Regions from separate parts of the Homo sapiens genome. Here region 1 is linked to region 2. The links come from fine-mapping of genetic effects on gene expression. A gene starts in region 2. The other region holds a variant in brackets. All regions are shown on one strand. Distances are from middle to middle.

The links. PIP is the estimated chance that this variant, and not a neighbour inherited with it, causes the effect.
Region 1: its variant is fine-mapped to the expression of CAPN13 in whole blood (TOPMed, PIP above 0.99).

What each region holds. Positions count from the first base shown.
Region 1 is chr2:31,011,160-31,014,072 of GRCh38, forward strand. The region is part of intron 1 of GALNT14 (polypeptide N-acetylgalactosaminyltransferase 14); the gene reads right to left. Among named protein-coding and RNA genes, the nearest start is that of GALNT14, 130 kb to the right of the region's middle. The variant T/G (reference allele first, on the strand shown) is at 1,556.
Region 2 is chr2:30,805,602-30,808,514 of GRCh38, forward strand. CAPN13 (calpain 13) reads right to left here and starts at 1,845. Exons shown (of 23, transcript NM_144575.3): 1 at 1,701-1,845.

The DNA.
Region 1 (2,913 bases), 210 kb after region 2:
TAACCTCTCTCCCTCAACTGAGAGTTAGCTGTCTGGCTGTCTATTCTGCAAAACTGTGATGCCATTTTACGGATCTAATGGACTAAAATAAGTAAAGCACTAAGCTCTGTGCCAGGCATACTTTTAGCACTCAAAAAAGAATAGCTACCACTTTGGTAGCAAAGTGAAGACAACGTTGTATGTCCATGGGGCAGTAAGAGCTGACTTTTAGATCTGGCCTCCACAACCTTGAATCCTCGGGTAAACCATTTCTGCTCACTGGGTCTCTGGTTACTTTTCCCACCTATAAAATATAGGGGTTACATAGCAGAGGCATCCTTAACTATTTGAGGAGACAGGGCCCTATTTTTCAGTGTAATAGAAGCCATGGTCTTTTCTTCCCCAGAAATAGATGCAAAATTCTGCTCACAGGATCTAGGATCCAGTGCCACCCTGGGGCCACAGGAGGCACCTGGCTGTTAAGAGGAGAGGGCGCCTCTCTGAAAGATGAGCTCACACTGGCAGACCTGTCTGGCAGCAAATAAATCTATGATACTCTCCCTTCTCCCTCCCAGCTACCCCTCAGGGGGCCAAAGCTGGCTCCTCAGCTCTGCCAGCCTCTGCCCACCCCATGCCGAGCACAGTCAGGAGGCATGCTGTGCAGAGGGACTCCATAATTGGTCCCTGCTCTGTTTGTACTTCAAACAACAACCTTGAGATGTGTTCTCTGGACGTGCCGCCTGGCTCTGGCTGCCATAACGCTCAGCCGGGAAACACATCTCCAGAGATCCACAGCACTGGGGAAAAGCTAGGCATTCTTCAGCTGATGCCCAGGAGCTGAAGGTGTTTGAAACGGGCAGGGGCAAAGAAGGGTGGGGAACGCCAGTCTGCTCAGGAAATTCTCTACTCCTTGGTGACAGTTTCCAGTACAGAAGATATCTCCTCATTCTCTTTGCAGAGCCGACCAACAGATAAGCGCTGGGGATTTATGTCTTTAGACCTGTATTTAATTTTTCACACTGCTGCTGGAATGGCTCTTCTAAGACACGGTTGGATCCCACTCACAGAATAAAGGCCAAGTTCTTTGCCGTGGTCTGCAAGTACTGCCCTGGACTTTTGGTCTGGCTTAACCCTGGTTCCCACACACTGGCATCCTTCCATTAAACTGCCACCACCATGACTTTAAGGAAGCAAGCAAATCTGGTCCCTGCAACCTAATAGTGTCCCCTCTTCTTATGGCAGCACCTATAGTTACCTGTTTATTGGGTCTCTTCCACAAAACAGCGTGTGTCCTGGAGGCAGGAGTGTGGCTTTTCTCTCTGAGAGGTTGGTAATAAAAACTGCTCACAGCCTCAGTGCAGCTCTCCCTTCCCACCTCACTCCACCAAGGCCCTCAGGCTACAGACAAGGGGACAGACACAGAACTCACAGCCCTCAAACTATGCCTTGTGGAGGAAATGAACAGGCTCAGACATGGTGAAAAAAGGGTTAAGAATGAACTTGCCCTGAATCAGGGTGTGTAGGTCAAGCAAGATGCAAAGGAACTGCATGGCAATGATGCAAACATGCCCCTGTG[T/G]GGGTGGGGCCAAAACCAAAACCAAACAAACCAACAAAATGGAACACAGTATGAAAAAAAATCCAAAAACAACACCACCCACACACACAAAACAAAAACCCCAGTCTAAATAAAAACAACTAAACAAATGGAAGGAAATTACCCAAACGTGCTTCATGCTATGGAATAGCTTAAAAGCATGAATTTAATAAAATAAGAGCTAAAGGATTAGATGATTAAATAAAGCAATGGAATAAAGAATGATAAAACTGAGAACCACAAAACACTTTTGCAGAACCAATAAATACATGTTGAAACTCCAAGAAGCAGTGCAGGCACAGCAGGAAATCTAATTACTGATACCAACTAAAGGGTTCCAGTCCTGGCTCTGACACTCTTGAGCAGTGGGACCTTGGGCAAGTCACTGGGACTCAGAGGAGAAAGATTTAAATTATTAAAGCAACTACAGGAGAGAATAAAATGTATAGAAAGAGCAAAGGTGATCCAACATCAGAAAACTGGTGAACCTGAAGCAGAGAAACAGATGGAACACACAAAACAGTCTTCATCTTTTTAAATAAAAACCTCCTGAGATGAATAAAGATCTGAGTCTGCACATCAAAATTGCACACCACATTCCATAAAAAATTGATACAAAGGGATTGACACGAAGATGTTTCCTGGTTTAGGTATCGAACTTCCAAATGCAAGAAAGAAATCATCAAGCACCCAGGCAGAACCAACAAGTCACCTACAGAAGGGGAAATGTTCAGCTGACCTCAAACTTCCCCGCGGCAGCTTTCCATGTCAGCGGATAATGAAGCAACACCCACGGGGCTGAGTCCAAATGTGACCAGAAGCATTTTAACCTGCTGAGGTGCCGTTCAAGTACGGACAGCAGGAGTGTGATATTCCCACATCCAAGCTCAGGGATGACAGCACCTATGAGCCCATTTTGAAGCAGCCACTAGAATCCACTATGGCAGACTTCTAATTTGGACCCCAGTCTGTCTGGCCCATGCTCTTTCTGTTAATGCCATTTCTGCTTTATATATGAATTTTGTTCCCACATGCAGTCAATGAAGAGGTGGTTCAAAATAAAAAACCCAAGAATGGAGCAGAAGAACCAGTAGAGCACTGAATCTATGTAATTACAAAACTAAAAGTAAACAGCTATGGGAATGGTCATGAAACACTACAAAAGTGTTATAGACTCTGACAATCTAAAAATAACGATTGTGCAGACAATGGCTTTAAGTTTCTGTCCCTGTAAGATTTCATGAAAGCTGCACTTAAGGAATGAAAACAGATGAACCTAAATTTTCTCAAGACCTATGCTCTGACACTGGCTCCACTGCTTACTGTTTATGTGATTTGGA
Region 2 (2,913 bases):
ATTACTGTTGCTACCATGTCTTAGTGATGAGGAAACTGGGACCCCCAAGAGGTTAAGGAGCATGCCCCAAATCACACAGCTCACCATATGGAAGCATCAAGCACAATGCTTGATACGGAGTGAGCCTCAGGGCCAGTAGGTTGGTCTTTTTTTTTTGAGACAGGGTCTTGCTCTGTCACTCAGGCTGGAGTGCAGTGGCATGATCATAGCTCACTGAAGCCTCAACCTCCTGGGCTCAAGCAATCCTTTCACCTCAACCATGGACCCCTCCCCCTGCCTCCAATAGCTGGGACTACAGGTGTGCACCACCACATGTAGCTAATATTTTTTCCCAGACCCCCAATTTTTAATTTATTTTTGTAGAGACAGGGTTTCACCATGTTGCCCAGGCTGGTCTTGAACTCCTGGGATCAAGCAATCTGTCCACCTCGGCCTCCCAAAGTGTTGAGATTACAGGTGTGAGCCACAGTGCTTGGCTTAATGTGTGCATTTCTTCATAGCATCTTTTCTTCTAAGGTGTTCTTTCAAGAGGGTAACTGAATACAACCAAATAACTAGGGGACAAGACAGGGTACCTACCAGGCACAGCAGAACTCCAGCTCTGTCATTTGCATCTGGTATAAACTTTTGCAGCAAGTCACTCACCGGTCCCTCACTTTTTCCATCTACAAAATGGGATAATGAACTCATGCTATATATAGCTTTTGCCTATTACACAGTTGGTAGATTATTACATTTCCATCAACCAATCTACTAATAAGTAAGCCTCCCTACAGCTGTCACTCCTCCAACCTTCAAAATAACAACAACAACAACAACAACAACAAAAACCCACAATACTTATGTCAAGGTGGGTACAAAGGTGAGACAATTCAAGAGGATAATCTGATTGAAAGTCTAGTTAATGCCACTCGGGGGTAACCAAAGTTGTGTTTGTGACCCAGGACAAATGGGACAGTCAGTAGTTCATGACCCAACTGTAACTATAGAGGGAAAATATCTGCACTTATTCTAATCTGGTTAACTTGGGTCCAAGCTGAGCAGCTGGAACTGTCTCCCTGAGAACAGCATCACATCTCAAAGATTACATAACTTTAGCAGTTACAGAGACACATGTGTGTGACCATGACACCACTAGAGGCATATAGGAACCTCCTGAATCTCTGAAGTTGTAATGATCTGTCTTTTGTGATTAACCCAGAGTTGTCAACTTCATTCCTATAACTAATAAGCTAGATGATTAGAAAACAAAGGGCCCAGGTCCCATTCTTCCCTTTAGCAAATGTTTATTAAGCACCTACTATCTAACAGAAACTACACATCAGTGCACAAAGAAGACATGATTTCTGCCATCAATGTGTCCCTTACGGTGAACACAGCCCTCAAGGTCACAACTTAGAATGATCAGAAATCGAAGGTGACAGAATGATTAAGAAATACTCTCTTTGCATGAAATATGCAAAGTTTGGATTAGATTCTCTTAGAAAATTAACTCCCACTTTGCCCTAGTTTTTCTTAAAGCATATCCTTGGACCACCTGCATCAAAAAAACCCAGCTTCCAGAGCTACTGAATATGTACCTTGGGAGGTGGGAACTCAGAAGCGACATCATGAAGCTCTCTAGAAAATTGTACATGCTCACTAATGTTTAGAGGACTGCCTTGGTCCACAGCTCTGGGACATGACCACGCACAACTTACCTGTTTCCTAGGCAGGTGTGTCTGATGGAGGAGGGGAGACGGGCAGGTTCCACAGGCTCTCAGGTTAGAGAGTGGTGGAGGAGACTGGCAGAGGAGGAGAGCATGGCCGGCCGTCTTGGAGAAAGAGCAGTGCTGGTGTCTGCTTACTCCTGACCTCAGGCTTTTCCTTATATGGGTGTACCAGGTAAAGGCAGGCTCCACCTTCGTTAAACAGTGACTTCAGCATTGGGCAGTGGCCTGCCACCTCTTGGAGAGAGAGAGGACATTGAATGTAAACAGCAACAGCTTCCAGATTCTCCGCCCCAAGCCTATCTCTGCCTTATCCCACCTCACTTCCTGGGGCCCCTAAGCTGCCCGTTTCTTGGCTCTTGCAGTTTTCATTGTTTCCAGATATTTAAGTTTCTTTATCTTTATTCTGCTTCAGGGAATTTGTGTTTTGTTTTGGTTTGTTTTACAAAACCCCTCTGCTGAGAAAAGACTGAGGGAAGCAACCTTCCTTCAGGCCTCATTCTCATACAGGAAAGTACAATTGCCATGTCTCCTGCATCAAGAGTGGCCACTCCACGTCAATCATATCACATCTCTTTCTACTAGACGCAGTATCTTCTTTCTACAAATACATTGTAGAACACATTAACTCCTGGGCATGGCGAGACCCAGGGAAGGTCTCTGCATCATCCCTGCTTGCTGGATGGGGCAGAAAGAGATGAGGCGTGTAAAGTGCATGTTTCCTGTTCTCAAATCCAAGGGGCTATTTGCTTTTCTGGCATCTTTAATTCCTTGATGTTCTTCATCCCCATTCATAAGTGCTCTTTAGAAGCCAGTTCCAGAACCCTGATCGCATGGCACACCCTATGCTATAGGCAATAATGATAAAATAGGTAAAACAGGGAAACAATGTGGAAATCACCAAAAACTGTTATGACTGGTCCATTCCCAAATTCTGATGAGTAGAAAGGGATATTTGGCACATGAATGAAGAATCTGAGAAGCTGGAAAGTATGGATATGAGTTTTAACCCCAGTTTTGCAACTTTTGGCTGTGTGACCTGGGCAAGTCCCTTCCCATCTTAGTCTATTAATCCGTGAGCTGAGGATTATGATGCTTACCCTGTCTGCCTTGTGTTTGTTTAGTGGGATTCCTGCATCCCAGCGGACACCTTCTATTAGAAATTTCACTATAAATACAGTAAACAATACACACACACACACTA